Homo sapiens: one gene and its partners. The protein of the gene in region 5 interacts with the protein of the main gene of each other region in a biochemical or structural test. Each region holds a gene or a part of one and is shown on either strand. Other genes may lie near its edges.

What was found.
Region 1: the proteins of ZMYND11 (region 5) and MLC1 interact in a surface display test, tested with the Homo sapiens proteins (one large-scale study listed by IntAct).
Region 2: the proteins of ZMYND11 (region 5) and ABCC6 interact in a surface display test, tested with the Homo sapiens proteins (one large-scale study listed by IntAct).
Region 3: the proteins of ZMYND11 (region 5) and PPP1R35 interact in a surface display test, tested with the Homo sapiens proteins (one large-scale study listed by IntAct).
Region 4: the proteins of ZMYND11 (region 5) and PPRC1 interact in a surface display test, tested with the Homo sapiens proteins (one large-scale study listed by IntAct).
Region 6: the proteins of ZMYND11 (region 5) and SLC5A7 interact in a surface display test, tested with the Homo sapiens proteins (one large-scale study listed by IntAct).
Region 7: the proteins of ZMYND11 (region 5) and SETBP1 interact in a surface display test, tested with the Homo sapiens proteins (one large-scale study listed by IntAct).

What each region holds. Positions count from the first base shown.
Region 1 is NC_000022.11:50,064,440-50,068,426, forward strand, and holds part of MLC1 (membrane protein MLC1), read right to left. Parts: intron 1-3,987. UniProt on the Homo sapiens protein: Transmembrane protein mainly expressed in brain astrocytes that may play a role in transport across the blood-brain and brain-cerebrospinal fluid barriers. Regulates the response of astrocytes to hypo-osmosis by promoting calcium influx.
Region 2 is NC_000016.10:16,177,576-16,182,068, reverse strand, and holds part of ABCC6 (ATP-binding cassette sub-family C member 6), read left to right. Parts: intron 1-3,103; coding exon 3,104-3,271; intron 3,272-4,442; coding exon 4,443-4,493.
Region 3 is NC_000007.14:100,434,117-100,438,111, forward strand, and holds PPP1R35 (protein phosphatase 1 regulatory subunit 35), read right to left. Parts: upstream 2,382-3,995; 5' UTR 2,259-2,381; coding exon 2,025-2,258; intron 1,949-2,024; coding exon 1,732-1,948; intron 1,652-1,731; coding exon 1,515-1,651; intron 1,418-1,514; coding exon 1,244-1,417; 3' UTR 1,166-1,243; downstream 1-1,165.
Region 4 is NC_000010.11:102,145,547-102,150,039, reverse strand, and holds part of PPRC1 (peroxisome proliferator-activated receptor gamma coactivator-related protein 1), read right to left. Parts: intron 3,369-4,493; coding exon 2,648-3,368; intron 1,669-2,647; coding exon 1,519-1,668; intron 1,413-1,518; coding exon 1,346-1,412; intron 1,224-1,345; coding exon 1,102-1,223; intron 863-1,101; coding exon 711-862; intron 115-710; coding exon 11-114; 3' UTR 1-10. UniProt on the Homo sapiens protein: Acts as a coactivator during transcriptional activation of nuclear genes related to mitochondrial biogenesis and cell growth. Involved in the transcription coactivation of CREB and NRF1 target genes.
Region 5 is NC_000010.11:242,991-247,483, forward strand, and holds part of ZMYND11 (zinc finger MYND domain-containing protein 11), read left to right. Parts: exon of another isoform or gene 1-3,031; intron 3,032-3,775; coding exon 3,776-3,983; intron 3,984-4,407; coding exon 4,408-4,476; intron 4,477-4,493. UniProt on the Homo sapiens protein: Chromatin reader that specifically recognizes and binds histone H3.3 trimethylated at 'Lys-36' (H3.3K36me3) and regulates RNA polymerase II elongation. Does not bind other histone H3 subtypes (H3.1 or H3.2).
Region 6 is NC_000002.12:107,992,433-107,996,925, forward strand, and holds part of SLC5A7 (high affinity choline transporter 1), read left to right. Parts: intron 1-524; exon of another isoform or gene 525-539; coding exon 540-695; intron 696-4,493. UniProt on the Homo sapiens protein: High-affinity Na(+)-coupled choline transmembrane symporter. Functions as an electrogenic, voltage-dependent transporter with variable charge/choline stoichiometry.
Region 7 is NC_000018.10:44,679,337-44,684,374, reverse strand, and holds the start of SETBP1 (SET-binding protein), read right to left. Parts: upstream 3,488-5,038; 5' UTR 3,354-3,487; intron 3,332-3,353; exon of another isoform or gene 3,014-3,331; intron 1-3,013.

The DNA of each region.
Region 1 (3,987 bases), on a different chromosome or scaffold from region 5:
GAGCCACTGCCAGGCCCCGTGGACAGTGCTGGCTGCTAGTGGTCAAGTCGCTCCACCCCTCCTGCTCCAACACGCGCAAGGCTCAGTCCCAGAGCCAGAGAGAATGTCCGCGGGAGGCAGAAGCGCTGACCGTTCCGTGTCAGCAGGATCCTGAGCGGAGGAGACAGGGGGCAGCCGTCCTGGGGGGATGGGGTGCACAGACCCCCAACAGCTTCACCCCTGAGCACCAGCTGCTAGGAAGGAAGGGGCAGGAGGCAGCGCGGTGAGCTCGGCAGGGAAGAGGATGGAGGGAGCGGCCGAGGATGCAGGGGGCCAGAGAGTGACCACGGAGCACCCAAAACCCTCTGTGCCCATGGATAGCTTTCCCGTGTTGGCTCAAGAAAAACAAAGCAACTAAATGTTAACACACAAAAGAGCCAAACATCTATCCAATGTCACTGCTACAAAAAGTAAGAGAAGAAACAGAACGAACAGCTCTTCTCAAGTTAACATAAAACTTTTTTTTGCGACAGTCTCCCTCTGTCACCCAGGCTGGCGTGCAGTGGCGCGATCTCGGCTCGCTGCAACCTCTACATCCCAGGTTCAAGCGATTCTCCTGCCTCAACCTCGCCAGTAGCTGGGATTACAGGTACCCGCCACCACGCCCAGCTAATTTTCGTAGTTTTAGTAGAGACGGGGTTTCACCATGTTAGCCAGGCTGGTCTCCTAACCTCAGGTGATCTGCCTGCTTCGGCCTCCCAAACTGCTGGGATTACAGGCATGTGCCACTACGCCCGGCCTGGATTTTAAGTAATTATTAGAAAGTCTGGTACTTGTGTTCCCAGCTGGAGTTTACCCTGGAGGATGGTAAAGGCATGGGCCCCATGTGGTCTTTGCTCTTCGGTTGTTGAGACACCATTTATTGCAAAGCCTATGCTTTCCTCAGTCTCAAAAAAAAAAAATCCAGAGCCATTAAAGAAAATATTAATCAACTTAACTATTTAAAAAAATAGCTTTCACATAACAAAAATCACAACAAGCAGAACAAGAAATAGCCGCCAGGCTGAGACCACCATTTGTATCCTCCATCACAGATGGAGCTGGTCTCCCCCGGCACCAGGGTTAGCGGAAAATGGTCAGGAGACATGAGCAGAGTCCACTGAAAAAGCAATGCAGACGTCCTCATGCTTTGTAAGAGGTCCTCGTCCTCACCCACATTGAGACGGAGGTGCTCCCACCCGTGTCACCGAACTCCAGCGTGACACCCTCTGTGGGGGGCTGTGGAGAAGTGAGCACCTTCACGCCATTGGCAGGAGGGAAGGTGGACGGCCCCCATTGAGGAGGTCGCCGAGATTTATCAGCATGACAGCTGCACCTACCCTCTACCCAGCAGTCTCTCTCCTAGCTGGATATCCTAAAGATGCGCTGAGGATTCAAAAGGAAGATGCGTGCAGGTTGTTCACGGAGGAGTTATTTATAGTAGCAGACGGTTGGAAATAACTCAGTTTCCATCACTAGGGACTGGCTGGGTTGACCGGGCAGTCAGGAGCGATGAAGGAATTCAGAAGAGCTCTGATCCCCTTGGGTATCGAGAAAACACCAGGATAAATTATTAAGTTTAAAAAAACAAGCAAGGGGCTGGGCACGGTGGCAGAAGCCTCCTCATCCCAGCACTTTGGGAGGCCAAGGTGGGCGGATCGCTTGAGCCCAGGAGCTCATGACCAGCTCAGGCGACAGAGTGAGACCCTGTCTCTGAAAAATAAAATAAGTAAATACATAATTAAAAAGCGAGGTACATGGCTGGGCACAGTGGCTCACGTCTGTAATCCCAGCACTTCGGGAGGCCAAGGTGGGCGGATCGCTTCAGCCCAGGAGCTCATGACCAGCCCGGGCAACAGAGTGAGACCCTGTCTCTGAAAAATAAAATAAATAAATACATAACTAAAAAGCGAGGTATATGGCTGGGCACGGTGGCTCACGTCTGTAATCCTAGCACTTTGGGAGGCCGAGACAGGCAGATCACTTAAGGTCAGGAGTTCAAGACCAGCCTGGCCAACATAGTGAAACCCTGTCTCTGCTAAAAGTACAAAAATTAGCCGGGTGTGTTGGCATATGCCTGTAATCCCAGATGCTCCGGAGGCTGAGGCAGGAGAATCACTTGAACCCAGGAGGCAGAGGTTGCAGTGAGCCAAGACTGTGCCACTGCACTCCAGCCTGGGAGACAGAGTGAGACTCTATCTTAAAAAAAAAAAAATGGCAAGGTACAGAATAGTGATTCTAGTATACAAGCTATTTTGTAAGAAAGAAAAAAAAATTATCATCTGGTTGCCCATAAGAGGAGCAGGTCAGTCAGGCATGAGACCACAGCTTTTCTGAGCTCGTCTTTTATAGTTTGGCTTTTGAACCACATAAATATTTTATATATTCAAAAAATACCATTTTAAAAAGAAAAAAAGCACCAAGCCCTAAAATGGAATACAACCAGAGGCCATTAAACTTAATGGGGTATCGAACCCAGAGGATAACCCCACACAGAAAGGGGCCGACTTCGATGGCGTGTGGCCGTCCCCTGCTAGCAGAATGCATGCTGAAGATAAAAGGGAAGCCTCAGGCTCACTCAGGAGATGGCCCCTGGGTGGTAATATTGTCTCTTGTAATCGTGAACAATTATATGCATATTGTAAGACAACATGAAGTAGGAGATATATTAAATGTCACAGGAAACAAAATAATTGGAGTAGGAGTGGGTGAAGCAAACACAAGAGAAGTGAAGAAAAAACCCTGGGCCGGGTGTTGTAGCTCACTCCTGTAATCCCAGCACCTGTGGGAGGCCGAGGACGCTATCCCCCTTCAGACAGTGACTCCATGCCCCCATCAGACAGTGACTCCATCCCCCATCAGACAGTGACTCCATTACCCCATTAGACAGTGACTCCATCCCCCGTCAGACAGTGACTCCATCCCCCGTCAGACAGTGACTCCATCCCCCGTCAGGCAGTGACTCTATCCCCTGTCAGGCAGTGACTCCATCCCCCGTCAGGCAGTGACTCCATCCCCCCATCAGGCAGTGACTCTATCCCCTGTCAGGCAGTGACTCCATCCCCCTGTCAGGCAGTGACTCCATCCCCCCATCAGGCAGTGACTCCATCCCCCCGTCAGGCAGTGACTCCATCCCCCGTCAGGCAGTGACTCCATCCCCCATCAGTGACTCCATCCCCCATCAGACAGTGACTCCATCCCCCATCAGACAGTGACTCCATCCCCCATCAGGCAGTGACCCCATCCTCCATCAGACAGTGACTCCATCCATCCATCAGACAGTGACTCCATCCATCCATCAGACAGTGACTCCATCCCCCATCAGACAGTGACTCCATCCCCCATCAGACAGTGACTCCATCCCCCATCAGACAGTGACTCCATCCCCCCATCAGGCAGTGACTCCATTCCCCATCAGCACACGCATGTTGACCTGGAGCAAACAGCTTAATACAGGTCTTCTAATGATTTGGGTGCAAAACCACTTATACTGGAAAAAAAAAAACAAAAAAACAAAAAAACACTAGGTATCTAAGAAATACATCTAGCTACACGTGCCTGAGCCTCAGAAGTCGTGTTGGAGATAAGCTCCTACTGGGTCAGCTCAAAGTAACAGGACTTTGAATTCTCCTTAAATTCACCTGTTAAACTCAATGCAGTTCTGATGCAAATCCGAAAAGCATGTCTCATAAACCCAGGACAGATTCTAAAATGGGCTCAGGGACAGAGTGGGTCCCAGGTCCCTGTGAAGCAGGTGGTGGCCCCAGATACAGGGCGGAATCGAGGCCCCGAGGCCCTGGGGCCAGGCTGGCATTGGGGAGCACGGTCACCGCTGCCCAGGAACAGCGGAGGAGGTGCCTCCTGGAGCTGTCCCTGGAGCCAGCGCCCCCAGAGTCCCAGGCAAAGCCAGCAAGGGCCAGGCCAACACGCAGAGCACCACATGTCTGGGGGGCTCTGAAATAAAATACA
Region 2 (4,493 bases), on a different chromosome or scaffold from region 5:
CCAAGGGGTCTGGACAGAGATGTCCAAGAAACAGGATATATGCATCTGGAGCTATGGATTGGGCAGGGGTTGGCAAACTGTGACCCCAAGCCAAATCCAGCCCACCACTTGTGGTTTTGTTTTTTGTTTTGTTTTGGAGACAGAGTCTTGCTCTGTTGCACAGGCTGGCATGCAGTGATGCAATCTCGGCTCACTGCAACCTCCGCCTCCCACGTTCAAGCAATTCTCACACCTCAGCCTCCTGAGTAGCTGGAATTACAGGCACATGCCACCATACCTGGCTAATTTTTATATTTTTAGTAGAGACAGGGTTTCACCATGTTGGCCAGGCTGGTCTCAAACTCCGGACCTCAGGTGATCTCCCCATTTACCTCAGAGACAAAGCCCAAGTCATGACAATCCCTGGCAAGGTCCCTGTGACCTGGCTCTGGTATCCATTAGCCCCATCTCCCATCATCACCTCTCAGCTTTACTGCAGCCACCTTAGTCTCTGTGATATTCCCTGATCCCCCACAGCACACTCTGGCCCCAGGGCCTTTGCACTGCTGTTCCCTCTGCTGGAAAGCTCTCCCCAGGAGTCCCCAGGGCTCATCCCTCACTTCTATCACCTTCACAGAGAGGCCTTTCCTGACCACCTTATCTACCACCACAGCCACCCTACTATTGTTAGTGCACCCTACACCTGCACCTGCTTTTTCTCTTTTTTTTTTTTTTTTTTTTTTTTCTGAGACGGAGTCTCGCTCTGTTGCCCAGGCTGGAGTGCAGTGGCACAATCTTGGCTCACTGTAACCTCCACCTCCTGAGTTCAAGCATTCCTCCCACCTCAGCCTCATGAGTAGTTCAAGCAATCCTCCCACCTCAGCCTCATGAGTAGCTAGAATTACAGCCATGTACCACCACAACTGGCTAATTTTTTTTTGTACTTTTAGTAGAGATGGGGTTTCACCATGTTGGCCAGGCTGGTCTTGAACTTCTGACCTCAAGTGATCCACCCAGCTCCGCCTCCCAAAGTGCTGGGATTACAGGCGTGAGCCCCTGAACCTGGCTCCCCCTGCTTTACTATTTATTCTTCATAGCACTTTCCACCTGATGTGCTGTCTGCCTTACTTGTTTATGGATTGCCTGTCTCTGTCCCCTTCATGAGAATGATGGATCCATTAAGAGAGCAGCAACTTTGTTTTGCTCATTGCTGTTTCTCCAGAGCCTAGAACCATGCCTGGTTTATGATAACGAGGCAGTGGTTATTAGTGGAATGACTGAATGTAAGAATGAATGAATGGCTGGGTACGGTGGCTCATGCCTGTAATCCCAGCACTTTGGGAAGCCAAGGCGGGAGGGTTGCTTGAGGTCAGGAGTTTGAGACCAGCCTGGCCAACATGGTGAAGCCCCATCTCTACTAAAAATACAAAAATTAGCCAGGCATGGTGGCGTACCTGTAATCCCAGCTACTTGGGAGGCTGAGGCAGGAGAATCGCTTGAACCCAGTAGGCAGAGGTTGCAGTGAGCCGAGATCAAGCCATTGCACTCCAGCCTGGGTGTCAGAGTGGAACTCCATCTCAAAAATAAATAAAAATAAGTTTTAAAAGAATGAATGAAAGACAAGAAGGCCTAGATAGAAGGAATAAGTTAAAGTAATCAATAGTGCACAAGGGAAATTATAGTTAATGATCATTTACTTGTATATTTCAAGATAGCTAGAAGAGAAGGATGGTTGTGTTCGCAATACAAAAGATAAATATTTGAGGTGATGACTATCTCAGTTACCCTGATTTGATCATTACATATTGTCTACAGCAGGGGTCCCCAACCCCCGGGCCATGGATCAGCACCAGTCTGTGGCCTGTTAGGAACTGGGCAGGCAGCACAGCAGGAGGTGGGCAGAGGGCAGGCGAGTGAGGTTTCATCTGTATTTACAGCCATTCCTTATTGTTCCCATCACCGCCTGAGCTCCACCTCCTGTCAGATCAGTGGCAGCATTAGATTCTCATAGGAGCACAAACCCTACTGTAAACTGCACATGTGAGGGATCTTATGAGAATCTAATGCCTGATGATCTGTCACTGCCTCCCATCATCCCCAGAAGGGACTATCTAGTTTCAGGAAAACAAGCTCAGGGCTCCCACTGATACTGCATGATGGTGAGTCATTATATATTACAATGCAATAATAATACAAGTAGGCCGGGCGCAGTGGCTCACGCCTGTAATCCCAGCACTTTGGGAGGCCAAGGTGGGCGGATCACCTGAGGGCAGGAGTTCGAGACCAGCCTGGCCACCATGGTGAAACCCCATCTCTACTAAAAATACAGAAACTAGCCAGGCGTGGTAGTGGGTGCCTGTAATTCCAGCTACTCAGGAGGCTGAGGCAGGAGAATTGCTTGAACCCAGGAGGCAGAGGTTGCAGTGAGTCAAGATCATGCCATTGCACTCCCAGCCTGGGTGACAAGAGCAAAACTCCATCTCAATAATAACAACGACAACAGCAGTAATAATAATAATAGAAGTGCACAATCAACGTAATGTGCTTGAATCGTCCTGAAACCATCCCCCGGGCCATCCCCCTGCCCCCAGGTCCATGGAAAAATCGTCTTCTACAAAACTGGTCCCTGGTGCCAAAAAGGCTGGGGACCACTGCCCTACAGGTATCCAAATACCACTTGTGCCCCTCGAATAGTTACAACTATTACATATCAATGAAAACTAAAAGAAAACAATTAAAATTTAAAATACAAAAGTAGGACTGAAAAGCTGCCACTGGATGAGGGAATAGGGAAATGGATGGTGGTCTCAGTGGAGAAAGGGAAACAAGAGTTGGACTCAAAGAGATAGAGAGAGTGAGCAGGAGGAGACAGAGTGGATTGGGAAGTGTAGGTAACTCCTCCAGGAAGCGTGCTTGGGAAGTGGAGAAGTGAGGTCGGGTAAGGATGGAGGCATTGTTGGCTTGAGAGCGAGTGCCTTGGAAGCTGGGCCTGTCCCCAGGGAATAGGCATGTTGAGCTGTACCTCACCCTGATGGGCAGGTGTGCCCTGACCTGCCACAGCCTGGGCACCCCAGTTTCACCCTGTAGATGCTGACTCAGGCCACTGTTCCTTTTGTGGCCACAGGGCATGAATCTCTCCGGAGGCCAGAAGCAGCGGCTGAGCCTGGCCCGGGCTGTATACAGAAAGGCAGCTGTGTACCTGCTGGATGACCCCCTGGCGGCCCTGGATGCCCACGTTGGCCAGCATGTCTTCAACCAGGTCATTGGGCCTGGTGGACTACTCCAGGGAACAGTAAGTTTGGGAACATGTGTCAGACAGTACAGGGCAAAGGCAGAGGAAGCACTTAGCATCCAGTCCTAACCCAAGTTTATCTCACCTCCCCCTTCCACTTGAGTCCAATTTCCTCTTTGTATTGGTCAGCTTTTGCTGTGACAATGCTATGTAACAAACAACCCCCAGATCCCAGCAGCTTACAACAGCAGGTGTTTCTTCCTTATGGATCTGTGATTTAACTACTACAGCTTTGCCTTGGATGATTGGCCAGGGTCAGATGTACTCCTTGTCTTCTTGTTTTGAGACACAGGCTAAGGGAGTCCCCTCTGTTTCTCTATTTGGATATGCTGTTTACAAGAAAGGCGGCAGGAGCACAAGAAGGGGAGCTGTCCCCACTCTGAGTCCAGGGACAATACCCCCACCCCAACCCCCAGCTCAGGAGGCTGGCCAAGCACATGTGTGTAACTTTTTTCTTTTTCTTTTTTTTTTGAGATGGAGTCTCGCTCTGTCTTTCAGTCTGGAGGGCAGTGGTGCGATCTCCGCTCACTGGAAGCTCCGGCTCCCGGGTTCACGCCATTCTCCTGCCTCAGCCTCCCGAGTAGCTGGGACTACAGGTGCCCGCCACCACGCCCAGCTAATTTTTTGTATTTTTAGTAGAGAAAGGGTTTCACCATGTTGGCCAGGCTGGTCTCGAACTCCTGACCTCAGGTGATCCATCTGCCTCGGCCTCCCAAAGTGCTGGGATTACAGGCATGAGCCACTGCGCTCGGCCGTACATTTTTTTTTTCTTTCTTTCTCTCTCTCTCTCTTTCCTTCCTTCCTTTGTTTCTTTTCTTTTCTTCTTTCTTTTCTTCTCTTTCTTTCTTTCCTTTCTTGACAGAGTCTTGCTCTGTCACCCAGGATGGAGTGCTGTGGTCCAATCTCGCCTCACTGCAAGCTCCACCTCCCAGGTTTAAGTGATTCTCTTGCCTTAGCCTCCAAAGTAGCTGAGACTACAGGTGTGCGCCACCTCACCTAGCTAATTTTTGTATTTTTAGTAGAGATGGGGCTTAGCCGTGTCAGCCAGGCTGGTCTCGAACTTCTGGCCTCAAGTGATCCACATGCTTTGGCTTCCCAAAGTGTTGGGATTACAGGCATGAGCCACTGCACCCGGCCACATGTGTGTAACTTCTACCCCTTCCCTGCCCAGACACGGATTCTCGTGACGCACGCACTCCACATCCTGCCCCAGGCTGATTGG
Region 3 (3,995 bases), on a different chromosome or scaffold from region 5:
CACACCTGTCTCGGTACTGTCTAGCTGGTGGGGGATGGGTGGTGCCTCCCACCAGAACCTGTGCTGTTTATCTTCCATCTCAAGGAAGACACGTTTTTCAGTGGTTGAGCTGATTGTTGAACACTAGTCAAGTCCACACGCAAGTACACAGAAGCCTAGTCAGGAAAAGGTGTGTAATGCAAATTTTGGTGTGGAACTTGGAGTCTGCCTTCCCTCCCCAGAAAAACCCCGTAGACGTTTTGGGCAGAAGGCTAACTTTTTGGTTTTTGTTTTTCTGAGATGGAGATTTGTTCTGTCGTCAGGCTGGAGTACAGTGGTGTGATCTCGGCTTACCGCAATATCCGCCTCCCAGGTTCAAGTGATTCTCCTGCCTCACCCTCCCAAGTAGCTGGGATTACAGGCACGCGCCACCATGCCCAGCTAATTTTTTGTATTTTTAGTAGACACGGGGGTTTCGCCATGTTGGCCAGGCTGGTTTCAAACTCCTGACCTCAGGTGATCCACCCGCCTCGGCCTTCTAAAGTGCTGGGATTACAGGCGCGAGCCACTGCACCTGGCCAGAAGGCTAACTTGGAAAGAGTTGACGGTGGAGGTAGGCAAAAGTGCTTTGGATCAAATGCCCAGGGACGGGCCAGCACCTTTTTTGTGCTGTGGAATCAGACTTACAGGCAATTAACAACATGAAGCTCTTCGGGGGCTTGTTAGGTGTTACTGGAACTTCGAACATACTGAGTATTCAGGTCAGGTGTAAACAGGATGGGCAAGGCTCTTAAAGGTAAAAAGCAAGGAGATAATTTCAGTAACTCAGTGCAGACAGCTGGCTTGCAAGCTCCTTGAGACAGGTAATCATGGAAGGTTTTCGTGAAGTGTGATAGGCTGGGCTCTGCATTTTGAGAGATCAGAATAAGTGATGCAGAGAACAATCGCTACCTGATCAAAAACAGGCAGTAGCTGTGGCTGAAGTCAGGGAGAGGCAGGTAAGGTTGTGAACGGAGGGGTATCTAAGTAAACCTCTAACGTGGACAGTGTTTTCCACTTGCCATGACTCTACCAAGTTCCAAAAAGGCCCCCAAACCCGACTTCCAGGCAGCTTCCAACCTGAGGCTAAGTGGATAACCCCCTAGAGAGCTTTTAACCCCATTTTAGGCCTCCAAGAAGAGTCCCATTTATTAGCAAAATTACTTTATTCTAACAAATAGTTTAACACAAAAATACGAACTAGCCCTCCAGGGATCTTTGGGGTCTACGCTTCCCATCGCCTCAGTGTCCGGTGCATGAGGAAGGTGTCCTCTGAAGGGCGGGGCCGGAGTTGAAGTCGGAGAGGGGGCAGACCGTCCAGGGTCAGGTGTGGAGATTCATAAAATAGCGTTTCTGGGTCACACAAGATGGTCATGTCTGGCCCAGGCCCAGGTGGCTCCTGTTGGGAGGTTGGGCCCAAAGCAAGGTTACACTTTGGGAGGAAGGATCCGGGTAAGGGGGTACATGGAGGAAGCCCCACGCCCAGACCCCATCACCTTTGGGTGCGGGGCTCGAGCCTGTGGCGGCAGGAGAGCCAATTTCTCCCTGAGCGCGGCATTCAGAACCTGTTCCTCCGGCACCTGCAGGCTCACCAGGTCCCGGAAGAGCCGCTTGGAGCGCGGCACGTTCAGCCCTGAGAGCGCAGCGGGGACGGAGGTGAGTGGCGCGCCTCACCCCGACTCCCGCACGCGGCCGGCCGCCCGCCCCCCTCACCCTCGGACACGCTCTCCTCCAGGCCGCAGCGGATCTGGAACGACTTTCTCAGCTGTTCCTCCACGGCCTTCGCAGCATCAAAGTGGCTCCCGGCTGCGGCCCGCAGCTCCAGGCCCAAGGCCAGGCTGCTCTTCAGCACGGGCATCTCCAGCTCCTGCGGCACCGCAGGCTGCGGCTCGGACCGCACCGGGGAGGGCGGCGTCAGGCGGAAGCGGACCTGGGAGCAGAGGGCAGGGCAGTGACCAGGTGGGCGCGAGGCCGTCGCGGGCCGGGGGCCAGCCTCCCCCGCTCACCTGCCGCCGCTGCCGAGCCGCGCCCCGCCGCTCCGCCCGCCCCTTCCGCCGCCCGGGGCTGCCGTGCCGCGGCTGAGGGCTGTCGGGCCGCGGGCTCAGGCTCAAGTCCAGGCCGGGCTCGGGCACTGGGGCTCGGAGTTGCGGGACTTGGGGCTCCGGGGGTGGCCCCGGGACCGCCGCGGCTTCTTCCCCGTCCGCCGACTTCAGCTCTGACTCCCCACAACCCATCATCATCTTTGGAGGTGCCTTGAGGGTGCGGGGATGCGGGGGTCGCAGACGCTCCAACGGTCAGGGGACACAGCCTGGCTGCCGCCTCCTTTCCCCCGCCCCTCCTAGACGCCGCTACCGGAAACCGTTAACCCTTTCCTTCGGGGGCGGAGTCAGCAGCCCCACCCACCCTGTTGTCGCTCCCAGGCGTCATTTCCCTCGCTCCGTCCCCAGGTTTCCGGCAGGCTTCCGCACTCACAGCCTTGGCACCGCCCCCAAGCCGAAGTGTTGGAAGCACTCACAGCCTTGGCACCGCCCCCAAGCCGAAGTGTTTTTGAGCTGGGGTCGGTTGAAGCCCTACGGGTCCTCATCAGGGCCACTCCTCCTCTTGAAAACTCTGCTATGGCTGAGTTACCCAGAGGAATCTTAGTCCTGCTAGCGCTGCGATGCCCATTGCCCAGTGTGTCAGTCCTCATTCTGGGGCGCCAAATGGGGCAGCATTTTTTTTTTTTTTTGAGACTGAGCCTCTCTCTGTAGCCCAGGCTGGAGTGCAGGGGCGCGATTTCGGCTCACTGCAACCTCCGCCTCCCAGGTTCAAGAGATTCTCCTGCCTCAGCCTCCTGAGTAGCTGGGATTACAGGCGCGCGCCATCACGCCCGGCTAATTTTTGTATTTTTAGTAGAGACGGTTTCACCATGTTGGTCAGGCTGGTCTCGAACTCCTGACCTCGTGATCCGCCCACCTCGGCCTCCCAAAGTGCTGGGATTACAGGCATGAGCCACCGCACCTGGCCATAAATGGGGCAGCTTTAAGGTAACGGTCCAGTGTGCCCTGACCTCCCACTCAGACCTGCACAGCATTTCCGGTGTTCCGTTGCCTCCAAACTCGGACCGGAGTTGGCCTGTATGAGTGCGGGCGAGGGTCGCCGACCCCATCCCGGACTCCCTTCTGGGACACAGCAACTCTTGCAGCTTTTTGTGACTACTTTTACCTTCGAGAGTTCCCTGAAATATTAATTTGTATAAAAAGTAGATATCTGGCACGGGTGCGGTAGCGCATACCTGCAATTCCAACTCTGGGAGGCCAAGGCGGGAAGATGTCTTGAAACCCTGAGCTGGAGACAAGCATGGGCAACATACCGAGACTCCACACCACCATTCCCAATCTCTACCAAAAGAATTTAATTTTAGCCGGGCGTGGTGGTGGTGCTCACCTGTAGTCCCAGCTACTGGGAAGGCTGAGGCGGGAGGATCACTTGAGTCCAGGAGTTCCAGGCTGCAATGAGCTCTGATCATACCACTGCGCTCTAGCCTGGGCGACAGAGCAAGACCCTGTCTCAGAAACAAACAAAAAACTCTGTATTGTGGGTTCAATGTTTTATTTTGTTTTTTGAGACGGAGTCTCGCTCTGGTGCCCAGGCTGGAGACTGTGGCACAATCTCAGCTCACTGCAACGTCTGCCTCCAGTGTTCAAGCAATTCTCCCACCTTAGCCTCCCAAGTAGGTGGGATTACAGGCGCCTACCACCACACCCGGCTAATTTTTTTTGTATTTTTAGTAGAGACAGGGTTTCACCGTGTTGGCCTCGAACTCCTGACCTCAAGTGGTTCAGCTGCCTTGGCCTCCCAAAGTGCTATGATTACAGGCAGTAGCCACTGCACCCAGCCTTGAATTCAGTTTTTTTAATTTTTAATGTCAGTGGACTTATCCTGGGCCCTGAGCTTTTCCACATAGCAGAAGACCCCTGAACTGCAGAAAAGGAAAT
Region 4 (4,493 bases), about 100 Mb from region 5:
GGGCCCAAGGTTACCTCCTGAGGTTCTTCTGGGCCTGTTTCAACAATGTGTCAAAGTCAAGAGAATCAAATTTGCTCTTTACAGGTGCTGGGTCAAAGTCTTCCCGGTTGGAGTCTATAAAGGTAAAGACAAACTTCAAGGTCTCTGACCACACTTCCCAACCACAGGGTCTGCAAATGGCTAGCTATCTCCCATCCCAAAAACGGATGGAGTGAAAACTGCTCTAATTTTAAGTCAAAGAGATAGGAGAGTCCCCAGTCCCCATTTCTCCTCTCGTCCCACCCCTTGGGTCTTTTTTTTTTTTTTTTTTGAGACAGTCTCGTTCTGTAGCCCAGGCTGGAGTGCAGTGTTGTGATGTCAGCTCACTGCAACCTCCGCCTCCTGGGTTCAAGCAATTCTCCTGCCTCAGCTTCCCGAGTAGCTGGGATTACAGGTGCGTGCCACCACCTCTAGCTAATTTTTTCTATTTTTGGTAGAGATGGGGTTTCATCATGTTGGCCAGGCTGGTCTCGAACTCCTGACCTCGTGATTTGCCTGCCTCAGCCTCCCAAAGTGCTGGGATTACAGGCGTGAGCCACCATGCCCAGCCCCCTTGGGTTCTTTGTATGTCAAACTAAGGTAAGTCTGCCTAGCCCCACTCACAAAGGGTTAGGAACCCTTCTGGGGAGGGGATGAAGCATTCCAAAGCTTTAGGCCCTCCCTCCACTCACCAAGATCAGAATAGCTCCTCTTGCAGAACTGCCTTCGGCCCCCAAAGCAGAGATCAAAGGGCTGCTCATCTGCCTGCCGCAGCTTGTGGCCACTCTCAATGGCTGCAAATGCCTCCTCAGCATAGCGATAAGTGACGAAGCCGTAGTTGTCCCTAGTAGGAGGAGAGTGAGGCAGGGGCTGGAGTGGCTATATGGGCCCATGCCATAGAGGAGACACAGCATCCCAAGGTACAGAGGTGGTTCTTCTCATTCCCAGTGGCCAACCCTCTGACTGCAGAAATGAAGGTGCCCCATATTGCTCAGCACACCAGAGCAAGGAGGCAAGACAAAGAAACACCAAGGTAGATGAATGGGATAGAAAGAACATCCTGAGCCTGGGGCCCAAGCTTACCCTTGGACACGGAAGTGGATGGTGCACTCCTCAATCTCTCCAAAAACGGAGAACCTCTGTTTCAGCTCTGATCGAGTCATGCGGCCAGGTATCTTTCCAATGAAGACCACCCTTCTTTCTTCCTATGTTTGGAAATGAAAAAAAATCAACACACCATTAGCCAGGGCTACAGCTGCAGGCAGCTCTCTGAGCTCAAGGCTCAGGGGGTAAGCCCCATCCTCCCATGATCTGTTCCTCTACTCACTATTGCACGCTCCTTTTGTAGCACTCTTTGCCTTTGGTAATGGTCATGTGAACGATAAGAGCTGTACCTGACAAAAGAGGGTGTCATCAGCCCCCCAAACATAAGACAATTCAAGACTCAACTCTTAGGCACCTGCATCCCAGGTGCATGGCGCTCCCTGAACACATGCTCACCGCCGCCTCCTGTCACTTCTCCGGCGGGGGGATGGGGATCGTGAGCGGCTTCGAGAACTGGATGATGAGGATGAGGAAGACGAAGAGGAAGATGATGACGAAGAAGAGGAAGAGCATCTTCGAGAACGTCCAGAGGAACTACAGCTGGACCTGAAGGATAAGAGGGCATGCAGGAATGCTGGGAGTGGTTCAGGTATACTCTGCTTATCTCACCCAGGCCCCAGTCCTGCCTTTCTTTTAGGAAGCTCAGGACCAAAGACAAAGCAGAGTAGAAGAGGTCTAGAAGAACAATTTTCATTCAGAGATGAACAAACTGAGGCCCTTCATGGAACTTTAGGTGTACCTGGAATGTTGTGAAGTGTTTTGGAAGAGATCACATTTTCAATTGTGCACTTAAAAATTGAAAAATATTTAACAAATCAGAAAGAGGAAGAACAATAAATGGAGACTCAGGGAGAGGGGTGAGCCCTAGGTCTCACACCCAGCTATCTGTGGTGCTGGGGCCAAGCCTGGGTCTTTTGGGTTACTATTGCTCCCCTACCAGGTCTCACTGAAATACTGTGACCATGAGAGAGGTTAACTGCTAGACTTGTAGTATGGGCCAGTTCTGAAGACATATATCATCTCCAAAACCCAAGAATTCTTCATTAAGTGGGAAAACTTGGTTACTGAGAAAAAAAGATACTGCCAGGAAATAGATGAGGCCATAGTGACACCCAAAGGAACTGCCCCAGACACCTTCCTCAGCAGATGATTAAGGGAAGAACTATTTTCTATTAACAAGTAACCCACTACCTCACATAGCGCCCAGAATACCAAAAATGAAGGCTGATACAGTATGTGAAAAAAATCAACATGGTCAAAATCAAACCCTAAAAGTCTCCCCAAGGCAGGTCTCAAAGAAGCAGGAGACCTGACACCCCAAGCTCCAACAGGGGACAGAAGCAATTGTCTCACAGCTTGCCTCCTTCAACAATCCAGGAAAAGGGAAAACACAAAAGCCAAAGTCAGAAATAGAAGCCTTAGCGCCTGAAAGTACCAAAGTCAACGGGTAAAAGCTTTCAAAGTAAACCACAGAAGTACGTGAACTTCCTAAATGGAGAGGACCTACAGGGCCATCAAAGCTCACCTTCGCCACCTCTTGTGTGGGGGGGAGAGGGACCTGGACCGAGATCGGGATGAGGAAGACGATGATGAGGATGAGGAAGATGCTTCGCTAGTCCGGTTGGACCCAGAGCTGACAGAACGGCTGTTGCGGCCTCGGCGGCCCTGCCAGCCCTGGCTTGAGGGGCTGGCTGACCTGCAGGCTTTTCGGTAACAGCGCATTGACCGCTGCTTGGCTGAGGGTTCAGGGGGAGTCCTAGTGTTCATGTCATTCCGGCAGGGTGAGGCCTCAGGGGACAGCAAGCTGGATGGGGCAAGGCAGGGTGCTGAGGGATCTGCCTGCTCACTGCTAGTCCTGTGATCAAGCGGCTCCCGGGAGGCAGCTATGCATGGGGGCGGAGGGGCAGCTGGGCCCAAGGACAAGACAGGTTTGATGGTGATGTCCTGATGGCGCTTGACATTCCATCGGGAGCCCACCTCTGGAATGACTAGGGCAGGCATCTTTTTTGGGGGGGTCCTGCTCCGGACACAATAGTCATGGTCCCCAGAGCCCACATGGACTCGACTAGGGCCATGGACCCCTTCTTGGAGGCGAACTGCAGCTGGATGTTTGGCCTCCGTAACTCCTTCAGGCTTCAGGGTTCCCTCCTGGGCGGTGGACTTAGGAGATTTGGCTTTGGCCAGCAGTGAGACAGCAGCCAGGGGCTTCCATAACTGGTGGGGAGGGGTAGCTGGAGGGGTGAGCCCTGTGGTGGGGAGGGAGGATGGAGATAGCAGGATGAGATCCGATTCTACGCTTCCAAATACCGTGTATATAGCCTCCAGAGACCCCCACCTCATCTCACAAAGTACACCAAGCAAGGTAAGCAGCCCAACTTTTCCCACTGCTTCAACTGCCCCTTCCCCATGTTCCCCAACTTGGGGACCAGCAAGAGAAATCCAGCCAGCTAGGGTCTTCCTGAAGCCCTCATCCTCTCACTACCCAAACCTAGTAGCCAGGTCCTAGAGTCTAAGCTCTCCATTCTCAGATCCGCCCCTTCCCCCGAGTACTGCCTGACTTCTAGGCTGCATCTTTCCTGCACTCATGCAGTCATCATCTATCGTCTCCCCACTTGCAGCTTCAGAGTCCACCTGTCTTCTACATTCCTGCTAGATGGAGCACCCAAAAACCAATCTGGCAAAGTTTCTTCAATGCACAGGATAAAGTCCAAAGAGCTTAATATGGCATTCGAGGTCCCAATAATCTGACCTTCTATTTACCACTCCAGTTTTATCTCTCGCTTTACCTCTGCCCACTGCCCTGATCAGCTACTACACTCCAGCCAAACCAAGCCTCTCACAATTCCCCAAAACATACCCAGTTGGTTTTGTTTCTTCAGTTCATTCAAGATGCTCTGTCTTCCTAGAATGCCCTGTTCCCTAAATCTACCACCTGATAGAGTTTCTCAAGCCTCAGCTTAGGGGATTAGTTTCTATATAACCCTTCCCTGACTGTCCCTCTTCACATCTCACTGTAATCCATGGTTGTTTTTTTTTGTTGTTTGTTTTTTTTAAAGACAGAGTCTTGCCCTGTCGCCTAGGCTGGAGGGCAGTGGCGCAATCTCAGCTCACTGCAAGCTCAACCTCCTGGGTTCACGCTATTCTCCTGCCTCAGCCTCCCAAGTAGCTGGGACTACAGGCACCCGCCATCACGCCCGGCTAATTTTTTTGTATTTTTAGTAGAGATGGGGTTTCACCATGTTAGCCAGGATGGTCTCGATCTCCTGACCTCGTGATCCACCTGCCTCGGCCTCCCCAAGTGCTGGGATTACAGGCGTGGGCCACCGCGCCCGACATTTTTTTTTTTTTTTAGATAGTCTTGCTCTGTCCCC
Region 5 (4,493 bases):
TTACATTAAGTGGTAATTTTTAACATATGCTTAATACATCATACTCGGATGGTTTCAGTTTCTTATCAGAATAGGCAAGGAAATAATGTATTTTTGGTAGGTTAGGGTAAGTCTTTATGTGAGATTGTGTTCTTGCTTCACTGTCTTCTACCCTAATCTTGATACATTAGTCAGTTTCTCTGAGCCTTAGCAAAATAAAGGCCTCATAAGAGTTTTTGTAAGGTTTAAAGAAATGTTGCTACAGAGAGACCTGAGCATAGTACCTAGCACATAGTGAGTACTCAATAAATGTCAGCTTTTATAATACAACAGATATTCAAGGAATAACGGGGGAAAGTTTGCTTCAATGTTTTTCACATTAAATAAAACACAGTTAACTTAGAAAAAACAAGAATTCAGTTATTTTTATAGCCATACTAATAGGTAAGAATAATCTGATAATTAGAACTTTTTATCTATATATTTTTCTTTTTCATCAACTTGCAAGTAGCTTTATACTGTCTTCAACCATGAGTGATATTAATAATGAGTTAACTTGTTAGATGTCATTCAGTATACTATGCAGAAAATATTTTTAAAGAATATTTGGGTTAGGCCAGGCACGGTGGCTCACGCCTGTAATCCCTGCACTTTGGGAGGCCGAGGCGGCTGGATCATGAGGTCAGGAGATCGAGACCATCCTGGATAACACAGTGAAACCCCGTCTCTACTAAAAATATGAAAAATTAGCCATGCGTGGTGGTGTGTGCCTGTAGTCCCACCTACTTGGGAGGCTGAGGCAGGAGAATGGCGTGAACCCGGGAGGTAGAGCTTGCAGTGAGCAGAGACTGTGCCACTTCACTCCAGCCTGGGCGACACAGTGAGACTCCGTCTCAAAAAAATAATAATAATAATGGTGCTAATCTGCAGCAGTCCTAGAGTAGTCTGTCACCTGAAGAGAGAATTAGGAAACATCAGATTACATTTTCAGAGGTATTTTTTTTCCGTCAAGCTTCTTAGGTCCTGGAAGATTTTATGTAAATAGTTCTAGACAGATGGGACTCTTGAGGACTTTATTTTAGAAAATAAGAGAGGTTGACAAACTCACTGTGTAAAATCATTTTCCTTTTTCCTGGATACAATGTGAACAATTTGAAGTGAAGGACTGGTTAGGATATACTTTATAGTCTTCCATATTAGAATGTTTATTTTAAAAAATTTGATACAATTATAATCATGAATTTTTAATTATTTAAGCAACTTATGCTCAAAAGGTTCTGGTTGATCAGGAGCCACTGGTTGCAAGTTTTGGCTAATTATTCTTCTGCTAGTCCATCATATCATTACATGTAAATGGGAGGAAAAAAAATGAATGGTTTTGTACCATTCCCTCCTAGACACGCAAATAGAATATGCTGCTCGTCGGAGACAATGAGCACGTTGTAAATCTCCAGCAAAAGAGTCGAGTATGATTGTGTTTACATGTGAGAGCTGCTTTAGTGAGCTTTTTGTAGGATTTGCAAGATTTCGCCTGCCAAAGAAAAGTAGCTGATAAGACCTGTCTTAAGGAGGCTAGATCTTTCTGCTGCGAGAGTGGCTGGTGGATGGCATGGCCCAGGCCAGGAAACCAGGTACAGACAAAAAAGAGGTAGAGCACTTCGGGCTCACTGACATCAGATCACAGAACCATTTTATTCTGCAAATGTAGTTAGAGCATTGGCAGACATAGAGCCAGATTAGACTATTCCTCTTGTTATTAGACTTACCTTAAATTGCGGGTGTTTGCTTTTTTATTTTTTGTAGATCAGAGAGCATACCCCGTGATAATCAGATTTCAGTTTAAAAAATTATCTACAGTACTGGAGTTGATTAAAGGAGAATAGAAGTACATTTAAAGAACAGATGTGAATCCACTTTATTTAAGATAAATAAGGAAAATACTCTTACAGATACAAGTTCATTCCAGGTAGTCAGCACTGCTTGTAACAGAATTCTCTCTCAAAAGCAAACTACTTTGAAAAAGTGAACAAACCACTTTTATTGAATTCCTACTACATAATAGGAAATCAGTAAATATCTGTTGATTGGAAGAGTAAATATATTCAAAATCTAATGGCAAGAAACTATTCCACAAGCATGATTTCATGTGTACTCTGCATTAGAGTTTAGTTTTTCAAAGTTCAGTTTACTTTGATATGGTTTTTAACAAAGTACTTATGCCAGATGAGACATAGTTGATATAATATTAACAATATATTCATAAATAATGTTATGGAAGTTCAACTCTAACAATTTTAGCTGTTGTTAGCATCTAATGATATAGATTATTGTATATTTAAAGTGTGCTTCTAGATTATAAAGCTTGGCTTGTACAAGGAAGTGGAAATGGTTATTTATGGCTGAGGCACATGTGGCCATGATTCCCTAAGAGATTCCTTCCAACAGTCATAGGCCCAGGATTTCTGGAGCGCTATAATTACAGGCCAGGGATGAAAACTGTGATATCATATATACTTATAGCAGGAAAAAATCTTTAACAGAAAACTGAAAAGCATAAATACGTGTGTTTATAGTACCATATCGCAACTTGTACTCTACCGTAGAAAATGTCTGTTACTCATGCATCCATACAGTTTCCTACCTCATTTGTGATGTTCCCTCTGCCTGGAATCTCTCCACTCACATTGTCTGCTGTCTAAATCTTATCTTCCAAGACCAAGGCCGAATAAAATGTTCTGACCACTCACAACCAAATGTTAACTGTTCCTTTCCATAGCACCCTAGAGTACCTTTACCACCTGCTGCATTGCATTATAATTATTCCTTAGTTCTTTCTGACAAAATTGTAAGTCCCTCAAAGGCAGAGGCAGTGTAGGAAGTGCCATCCTAATAATCAGAAGACCCGAGAGATTCCAACCACTAATAGTTTACCTTAACACCTGTGGGCAGCATCTCTTGCCGCTGTCAAATGAGGCAATGAAACTCAAGATCACGTAGACCCCATTCACTTTTCCATTCTTCTTAGTGCCTTCCCCTGGTACACAGTAAACATCTGTTGAACACAACATTTGGGATGGATACAAATTTAAGCCGAGAAAGAGACCAATGCCCAGGAAAAAGTGTTCTTTCCAACAGAAGCAAATGTAGTTGTCCTGCTCTAGTTTTAGATATGTATCGCACTTATGTTCACAGCTAAGTACACTGTGGCTAAATAATCAGTGGCTCTGTGTGTTCATCTGGTTTCTCTAATGAGTAGAGGCATGATACAAATATGACTTACTGGATAATATTTTTAGATCTTCCCATTTTATATGAATATATGTATGTATCTTATGAAAATTTTTGGGCATTTTCAAGTGATTCTTTAGTGCTAACGGCAAATAGCTAGATGGGTTATATTAGTTTACAGTATTCAGAACAACAAATAACTTTAAAAGGACTTATGAAGAATACAGATATGAACTAGGACAAGCTAAGCTGATTGAATTGTGAACAATTGGGAGGCATTTGTGAATCCAGTTCTGAGAACTTTTGTCGACTGTGAAAGACAAAACAAATCTCATTTATTTTCCGCTTGGTAACAGTTTATTTATTCAAGCCATGACGAAGCCTAAGTGATTGTGGTTTTCGCAATTAAAAGTAACGGCAGAACCCACAATTGCTTTTGCACCAAGCTAACAGACGAGAACTGCCACAGGTCGCACTTTATGGCAGGCAGGGTCCACTGAAGCCCTCTTTTACCACCCTTCCTGCCATTTGGGATGTTTCTAACTATACCTTTATGTGTTTTTCCTAGGGCCTGGATTCCTTCTGAAAACATTCAAGATATCACAGTCAACATTCATCGGCTGCACGTGAAGCGCAGTATGGGTTGGAAAAAGGCCTGTGATGAGCTGGAGCTGCATCAGCGTTTCCTACGAGAAGGGAGATTTTGGAAATCTAAGAATGAGGACCGAGGTGAGGAAGAGGCAGAATCCAGTATCTCCTCCACCAGTAATGAGCAGGTGAGTGTGTCTCCGGAAGGAAGTGCCTATTCATTATTACTTTTAAATGCAGAAATCTTAGTGCACACTCCTCACTGTAATGAACAGATTTTGACGTTCTCCTTCCCTTTTTTACATTTGTAAAGTGCTCTGCAAAACTAAACCAAAAGCAGTTCAAATGAATACATAGATGTAACAATCAATGACCTTGACCCTGCCAGTACCAAGAGAGTTAAGTACAAGTGCTCCTCTCTGAAGGTGCGCTGGCTCTTTCAAGCCTACAGTTACCAGAACAGTAAATTAAGTCAGTGGTAACTGAGTGGATGGAAGGATGCAAAAGGTAGAAATGTATTCACTTCTCACCTGTGGGTCCACTATGAGTGTTTTCAGCAGAGAAGTATTTTCTAGTGTCTGGAATAATATATTACTTTTATAATGCCCACAGCTAAAGGTCACTCAAGAACCAAGAGCAAAGAAAGGACGACGTAATCAAAGTGTGGAGCCCAAAAAGGAAGTAAGTTGCCCACCTCG
Region 6 (4,493 bases), on a different chromosome or scaffold from region 5:
CTCTGGACCTGTGGCTGTCAGCACAGTGAATTTCTTAACATAATCATGTTTTATTTCTTTCAAAACAAGTATGGATATATCATTAAAAATGAATCAACTTGAAATGTACCTGTGTTTCTTTTAGCAAGTCAAATGAATAAGAGGTCAAAAGTATTATATAACAGAAGGTACCTCATTTTTGGGGCACTCAAAAGGCTTTTATTGAATCTGTGCTTATTCAAAACCTCTAAATGCTATGTTGAGAGATAGAAATGCATTGAGGCATTTAAGTGAGCAATGTGCTGGTTCATGTTTTTCAATTCACATACCTCAACATGATCCACTTATCCTTTGGACACATACAATGGTAAGTGTACTAAATAAATTATATTAGATTGCTAAACCTAATATTTATAGTAGGTTGGTACTGTGTGCAGACTTGTTCCTCAATCCATACAGGTGTTCTGGAAAATGCATTTTCCTTGATAAATGGCAGCATAGTAAAAGACTATTATATTACATTCTTTTTATTTTCTCCTAAACAGTTGCTTAATTTTTAGGTGGCCTGTTCTTTGCAAAACCTATGCGTTCAAAGGGGTATGTGACCATGTTAGACCCGTTTCAGCAAATCTATGGAAAACGCATGGGCGGACTCCTGTTTATTCCTGCACTGATGGGAGAAATGTTCTGGGCTGCAGCAATTTTCTCTGCTTTGGGTAAGGACCAGCTAAGTTGTCTAGCTGCATCTTTGTAGTTAACTAAACATCAGATACACAACCTTACTTTCCTCAGCCTTGGCTTCTGAGGACATTTTTATTAAAACCATATGCTGAACCATATTTATATGCATAAAAGCTTAATGGAAATTCTACGTTTACTTGCAATATGGTGGCAGAGGTTAAATAAAACCTCAGCTACACTTTCCATACTTGAATTGCCTCATTAGACCAATAACTATGAATTATAATGATCAATTTGCTTTTATGAGTCATATATGATTTTGAACAAAGAATAATGAATTAAGCATAGCTAAAAAGTGCAGTTTACTTAACATAAATGTTTAAAACAAGGATTCATGAACCAGGGGTTAGTGAGAATACTAATACATATTTTTGGTGTTGAATAAATTTAAATAAATGATTTATATCTTAATTTCTTCCAATAAGTGTTCTTCCTGCAAACTGAGAACTTTTTACCTCCCATTGTTTTCCCTCTAATAACTGCCATGTTAATTGGCATAAACACAGATATAAAACTACCTAAACTCCTGAGACAACAGTGTTGCATGTTATTCTAAAAGCACTGATATTTTCAGAGATGTTGACTTTTTAAATAAAATGTTTAATTAAAAACATATATAAAACAGAGTCAGTTCCAGCAGTAAATAACATTCCTAAAGAAGTGAGATATCACCAACCCTCTGCTGACAGAATAGGTAAGTAATGTAAGTCACACAGCAAAACTACAAACTTGAAATATTTCCATAAATTGATATTATAAAGTTCAATGTTACGGTTTAGTAGTGGAAAAATTTAAGTATGGTAGAATATAACAAGAATTTCCCCTTCAGTTTAAATGTCTTCTCAATAACTTACATGAGAAAGCTTGCCCATGCCTTAGCGTCTCCTCGACTCCAATCTACCCTTAGAGACACAGGCTTAGATGTGTACCACATGGGACCAGTTGAGACTGTTGGACCTGACTGAGGCTGTTGAGGCAGCTGGGAGATGGAAGCTCCCCATAAAGGTGTGCACTGCCCCGCCTTCAGCACATCCAATTTCATCCCGCAGGTTAGTCAGGATTTTTTTGATTGCCAACTATAAAAAAGAGTGACTGTTGCCGAAACAAGAGTATTTGATCGTTATAAAATACAGCAAGAACTAGGTGGGGGGCCGGGCGCGGTGGCTCACGCCTGTAATCCCAGCACTTTGGGAGGCCAAGGAGGGCGGATCACGAGGTCATGAGATCGAGACCATCCTGGCCAACATAGTGAAACCCCATCTCTACTAAAAATACAAAAAATTAGCCAGGCGTGGTGGCGGGCGCCTGTAGTCCCAGCAGCTACTCAGGAAGCTGAGGCAGGAGAATGGCGTGAACCCGGGAGGCAGAGCTTACAGTGAGCTGAGATCACGCCACTGCACTCCAGCCTGGGCGACAGAGTGAGACTCTGTCTCAAAAAGAAAAAAAAAGAAACAACTAGGTGGAAAATGCTGCACTTCTCTGGTGCTGGATAATAATACTCCACATCCACTGCTGCTCTTATGTTCTAATGATATTATGTGTAAAACTACACCTCCCTTTCCACCTGACTCTCATTAGCTGAGTTGCATTGGGCGCTTGTTTGCCATTGCTTTGAACACCAAAAAATGTTAATTTTAAGAACAAATTACCTGCTGAGGTATCAAAAAAGGAGTGGGCTGAGTATATAACAAAATACAAAATGTTCACTCATTGAGTAAAGATCAACTTATATAACAGAGCCCTGAAGAAAGAATAGAATTAATAAGCAAATGCTTCTAAAGTATTTTGGAAATATAAAATATAGTAACGAAACTGTGAACTTTGTTATAATTAGTTTTGTATATATGTGTGTCTGTGTTTGTGCCTGTATTACAATATACAGTCAGCTTAAGGATGTAGATGCATTCTGAGAGATGCATCAGCAGGCAATTTTGATGTTGTGTGAACATAGAGTGTACTTACACAAACCGAGTTGGTAGCGCCTACTACACACACAGGCTATACAGTATAGTCTATTGCTCTTAGGCTACAAACCTGTGCAACATGTTACTGCACTGAATACTATAGGCAATTGTAATACAATAGCTATAATGTCACTAAGCAATAGGACTTTTTCAGCTTCATTATGATTTTATGAGAATTTATGTATTTGTGGTTCATCATTGATGGTAACATTATTACCTAATCCATGACTACATATGTAAAATATGTTATTGTCTGTATCTTTCTAAACACTCACATATATCAAACAACATATATAAAAACATTGCTGCTATTGCTTGAACTCTTTGGGAGAGAGAGAGAGAGAGAGAGAGAGAGTGTGTGTGTGTGTGTGTGTGTGTGTGTGTGAAGTTACTTACTGGGTACTATGTACATTATTTGGGTAATGAAAGCACTGAAAGTCTAAACTTCACCACTATGCAGTATACCCAGGTAACATCATTGCACCTGTAATCTTTAAATTTACACAAATAAAAAGTAATAGTTGGATTTAATTAAAATTTAGTGTTTATTACAAATAATTTGATATATTCAAGAATATATAAGATCTATTACCACCTTTCTGTGAATGTGTATAGTTCACCATTGAAACATAGGAGAATCTTAAACTATCTTCTTGGTAGAAATTGACATCCTACAACATTTTGAAGAAATGTGTATTTACACTTCTAACAGCTCAAGTTCAGTGGATTTTCATAACTTTGCAGGATACTTATTTTATAGCTTCATGAGTAGACTAATATTTCCTGGTATACCTCAAAGTATCACTTTGTTTTACTTACAATTGATTTAATTTTTCAGAAAATATTTTAGAGAAAATTTTATCTCAATTTTAATAGTGATAATGGAGAAGTGATTGACGTCTCTAATATCTCTGAGTTACAGTTAAGTGACAGCATCTACTAGGACCCCAAATCTTTGAGATTTTAGTCAGCTAATCTTTATTTTATAATTGAACTTTTCATAATTCATGGTATATAGCTTAGAAGCGTTATTAAAGTGGAGAACTACACACAAAAAAAAAGAACGACAAAGTGTTGGAAGTAAAGTTTCGATTCGAAGTAAATGATCTCAGGAAAAAATAACTTTTCAAATATCTATAAAACAATAACTCAGTCAGTTATCTGAAGTCACTCATCTATAATTATCTCTCATCCTTGTCTTCATTCTCCAACTTCTTACTAGATTTTTCTTTTCAAGGGATCTTTACTCTGGAAAATAATTCTATTTTATCACCATAGCAAAACACTGAAAAATATTTCTTACTGATATTTTGGATCAACACATCTTATATTGAGATAATGTAGTTTCATCTCCAGTGGGTTGCATATACTACTAGCATGCCAATTGAGGAATGGGGGTAGGGTGTAAGACAACTCAGCTGGCTGCAACTGATGATACATAAAATCACAGATCCATTACATGTATGCATTTAATAATGTGACATGTAAACTGTATAGTTTTGAGAACAATAGGGAAAAGGCTACTAAAGCAACAAGTGAATTATGAACTGTCAGTCCAAGAACCACAGCGGCCCAAACTGGTCATACCTCAATATGTTCAGTGGAAATATAGGGACCAACAAACACAATAAACAATGTTATAAAGAGAAACATAAATTTGATTTCTAAGAGAAGTTTAAAATGTTGATGATGAAAATTACTTAAAAATATGATATTCAAATCTTAGGCTCTTCAGTATACTGGTATCCTAGGAGCAGGACTGGTATGTTCTACCAATTAAATAAAAGAAGAGTGATCTGTCGCAAATTA
Region 7 (5,038 bases), on a different chromosome or scaffold from region 5:
GGCATCATCTTTCTGCATTCACGAATTATAGTCTGTGGACATCCTGGTGTTTTCTTTCCTGCACTTTTCAGGTATATGGCAGGCCAAAGTATGTGCAACTTCATGAAGAGTTTGTAAAACACCTGGGTTGCCTTTAAAAACCACTCTAAAAGAAGCCCAAACTTATGGCCCAAAACATTTTGGGAAACTCACTAGGTTTCAACATATGCCACAGGATAGGAATGGAATTGGATTGTTTTGCTCCCTTCACAGGAACCCCAGGACCAGACAAAATGATGTGCAGCAAGACCTCTGTGAGGCTTCCTTTCTTCAACCCAGTGCTGCTAACCCTCCAGGGCAGCCTCCTGTGCTCCCACCACCAGCCTCTGGTAGGACTCTCACATACACTGAGTCCCTGAACAAACTCAATAACACCATCCCATTTTTAAAGCACTGCAACTCCTCCTTACAATACTAATGTGTTCATAATAATTTGCCCCATTCTTCTGGCAGGAGCAAAACTGAAGCAACTTGAAATGCCATCAGCAAAAAGTTATTTATTTCCCATTCCTGAGCATCAGAGAAAACAGGGTTTCATTGGCTGGATCTGCCTTCAATAGCTTTCTGGTTTCAATTTAAACTTCAAGTCTCCAAGGAAAAAACTGGCATTCTGGGAGGTCCAGGCCCAGCCAAGTTTCAGTGTCTCCACAGGAACCCAGAAAGGATGCCCCATCCAGCTAGCTATTTCTCATCTGCTTCCTTTTGCATACTATATAGAAGCTTTGGAGCAGAGATTGAAGTACAACTAAAAATAATGACCACATTGAGAGAACTCTCCTCTCCTAGAGGTACACTTTTGTGCCAGACAAGTATCGATTCATCCCCTAGAGGAATTCAAAGTTAACAGGAGAAATGGAATCCAGGGGAAAGTACCTACCTATTTATTTCTTCTTCAGCAAAATCCTGCCTCCTGCCTCTCCCCACTCACCATTTTCAACTAAATCCTAAAACACTCCCAAGCACTGTTTCCTTTTTCCCCAACCCTCATTTAGGTCAGGTGATTTACAAAGTAGCTCACTCTGAGCAAGGCAAGTCCATGACCAGAAGCCCTTATGGCAGCAGGGGCTGTTGGGTTAACTTAAAGATACCTCTAGGTTCCCCTGTGTGATGTCCAAAACTGGGCCTTCCAGCAGAGCCTTCCTATGTAACATTCTGATGCTAACATACAAAAGATCAAATTACAGCCCTTCACTTGCCTAGCCCTTTCATGAACATATAAGGCAGTTGATATTTTCTCCCAAGCTAGAAGTGGCCCCCTTCTTAACCGACACTACTGCCTCTCAGACACTCCACCTTATGTTCACTGCAAGCCATCCCCTCCCCCACCTCCAGTTTGTTTATTCCAGAGATACATCTATTTTCCCAGCTAAGAGAGACGAGTCCCTTTCCCTCCTCTGGCTCCCGGTGGTGCATTCGCTCACCACCTCCTCCCCCAGCTCAGCTCAGGTTACTATAGTGGCTAGCAACTCCCACAGCCCAGGTCTAACACCAACTCAACTTCCCAAGACCAATAGTTTGTTTTGGTTTTGGTTTTGTCCCCTTAACGGGGGAGGAGAAATCGTGTGCCAAGCAACACTCTGGGTACCTGGTCTCCATATCTTTGGGGGCTACATTCCCTGCCGTTTGCAAATACTCTGTTTAACCACACTTGATTTCTTCCTCCTCTTCCGACTTTCCCCCAAACACTCTGTCTTAATACCCTTTTCTGGGAACAGGCAATGAGACTAAGCACAGGGGAAAACACAGCACCTCACCTTCACTCTGACACCTGGGAATCCCTCGTCAGAGCAAAAGAGCTCACGCCTCCCTCAGGGAGTTTAAGGATGGTAGAAGCCAGAGAAATCAGAAAAAAAGGGAGGGAGTGACCTGGGATGGTAAACTAGCTACATCTTAAAGTGCTACAAACTTTCTCCTCCCTCACACGCCCCTGTCTGGTTGGCTCCGCCTTCCCATCCCAGCTGGGGTGTGCAAAGGAAACTCTCCCCGGAATGCCCAGGTCTGGTCCAGTGTTGAAGATGTGGCCTGCACACAACACCGCCCTTCCTCTCCAAATACCTCTTCTCTACCCCATCCCCTTTCTCCCACGACACACACATGCTTTGCACGTGAAGATGAGTTTGGATGGGGCACAGGAGATATACCTATTTACTAAAGGAGGGTAAGAGATGGTGCCAAATCGGCAGATAGTTTTGGTGACAGTACAGAGACTTCAAGAAATTAGTTTTTAGTATAAATCTACAGAAAAAGAAGAAAAACAGGATGAAGAGTGAAGGAATGAAAAGAAAAAGAAGGAAAAAGATGTAAGAGAAAAACAATCAACGCCAGTGGACTCCAACTAAACTTTAAGGGGAAAGGTGTGGATAGTTGGCAGGAGGTGGGGGGAGTGTAGGGGCTGGAAGGGAAAGGTATCTGCTGTAGAATTCCAGAATAAACTGCCCTTTTGGAGGAGAGTTTCTGCAGGGATAAAGAGACACACAAATTGCCCTTTTAGCGTTAGATGTCAACCGTGAGATTATCAGGACAGTTTATTTGAAACGGAAACGAATCGGAAATCCTTCCCACAACAGTCCTTTTAGACAGATACACACCCTGAGAATCCAACACAGACACACATAAAGAATAAATGCAGCATTAGGGGGCAATAAGAACTCCCCTTCCACACTCTCAATACCTCTAGCCTCATCTATTTCCAATTGCACAACTTTCAATCTCCAATGAAAATATTTCCAGTTGGATCCGATTTCAGACTTGTAGTAAGCGGTCTGGATGGGGGGGCGGGGGGAATAGGTGCTGTACTGTGCAGGGGAGGGGGGCTGGAAGACAGTATTTCGGCAGTTAACTTATTTTTTTAGAACCAGCATGCTCTACCGATCAGAAATTGCTATTACCCAACAATGCTTCCATCACAAACAGACACTGAAAACAGCATCCCCGTTATCACCATCTTGCCAAAGATCTGCCCGGTCCAGTTTACCTGACTTTGTCCCTGCGGAACTTCTCAGACAGTATTTCGGTCAAAGAGATAATGGTTTGGAAGACAAAAACAATAAATCGATACCGAAGGGTTCCCTTTCCGGAGTGATTTCCCACTGGAAACCACCGAACGGGGAAGCCTGCCGTTCATTCCCAAGCCCACGGCTCCTCTAGAAACGCACACAATGCGTGCTTTCAAAAAGGCATTCGTCTGCTTTTAAGGGAATTCCTATCTTTTCAGAGTCCCAAAACCAGAGAGCACAAGAAAGAGACTCAAATCCATTGATTAAGATTTTTAAGAAAAAGACTAACACACAGGCACAACACAAGCACACACCAACCTTCGCCGGCTGGACCACTTCTTGCCTGTTCTTCTTTCTATTAACGACACGTTAGATTCTGATACATTCCCCCCCCAAAAAAATCCAACTAGGTTACAATGTAGCTCTCTAGCTCCACTTAACCTGCAAGTTACAAAGAGAGAAAAAAAAAATCCTGCCTTCCCACCCCTTTCCTTACCCCCTCCCCCTCCCGAGTCCACTCCACCAACGCCAAACCCGCCAGCCCCGCCAGCCGGCTGCAGGACCGAGGGAGGGTGCAAAAGGCGGGGGGCGGAGGGGGGGTAGATCAGATTAGGCGAAACTCAATAAGCTCCCAGCCCTCCAGCCCAAAGCTTCCACCATCGCCGCCACCAACGAGCCACTCCAATTGAGCCAGCATCGCCGCCCACCCGCCGGCCCGCCGGAATCGCGCCCATCTCCTGCAACCTCGCCCGGACCGGCATCCCGCCCCCTCGGCCCGGTCTCCCCCTTCCCGCCGGGTGCAAAGTCAAAGACCCAGCAAGGCGACGTGAACTTTTGCATGCAGGGCACACACGTCGCCCCCGGTTCCGGGAGTGCGGGGGCCCGCGGCGCGGAGGGAGGCTGGGCGCCCGGGCTCCCGGGCCAAGGTCGCCGCGCGTGCTCACCCATGTCCCGGCGGCTCCGGCTCCGCTGGCCCCGGCGCTCGCTCAGATCCCGGCTCCCGTCGCTCGCCCGAGCCCCCAAAGGTGCTGCTGCGGCAACTCCATGGCGATGAGCATCTGTCAAACGGCGAGCCGCGAGCTGGCCGCCCTAGCTCGGGGGGCGCCGGGGCCCCCGGGCGCGCGGAGGCGGCGGCGAGCGGCGGGCGCCCCGGCCGGCCCCGCGCTTCCCGCCCGACTCTGCCGCCTCCGCCGCGCCACCGATTTATGGAGAGAGATATCAAGGGGGAAAATGGCGTCTCCGGAGCCCGAGGAGTCCTGGAGTAATCACATTCACACACACACGCCCGCACGCACACACACTCGCACACACTGGCACACAGGCGCGCGGCGAGCCCTGCTAATTTTAGCAGGAGCCAAAAAAAATTTTATATATATATATATATATATATATATATATATATCCCCGTCTCTCCGATCAATGCTTTTTCTTTTTTTGCTTTTTTTTTTTTTTTTTTTTTTTTTTTTGCTTTTCTTCAAAGGATGGGTTGGAGCGTTAAAAAATGTTGGTGGGTTTGGGCTCGCAGGAGGCGGCGCGCGGAGGGCGAGGGCGCTTTTGCTGAGCTGTGCAGTTCGGTCCGCTGAGCCCGGCGGCCCTGCCCGCCCGCTCGTCCGCCCGCGGTCGCTAGTGTTGCCGCCGCCGCCGCCGCCGCCGCCGCTGCTGCTCCATGGCCGCGCCCGCCCCGCGCCCCCGCCGCGTCCCGTCGCCGCCCGCCCGCGTCCCCGGTGAGCGCTGGAGTGGGGTCGGGCCCGTGTGCCTGCCTCCCGCGCCCTCTCCGAATCCCGGACTCCTAGTGAAAGGAAGGGGGAGGGCGCGGGCGCGGAAGGGAGGTGGATCGGAGCGGCAGCGCGGCCCAGCCGAACGGGTACCGACCGTCACCCCGCGATCTTCCTCGCAGGGGGCGCCGGCGCCCAAGCTGCTCGCCCGGAGGGCCCAGAGCCGCTTCCCAGACCAGAGCCGGGGGAGGCGCAGCCAGTAGCGAGCCCTGAGCGACCTCTCTCCCC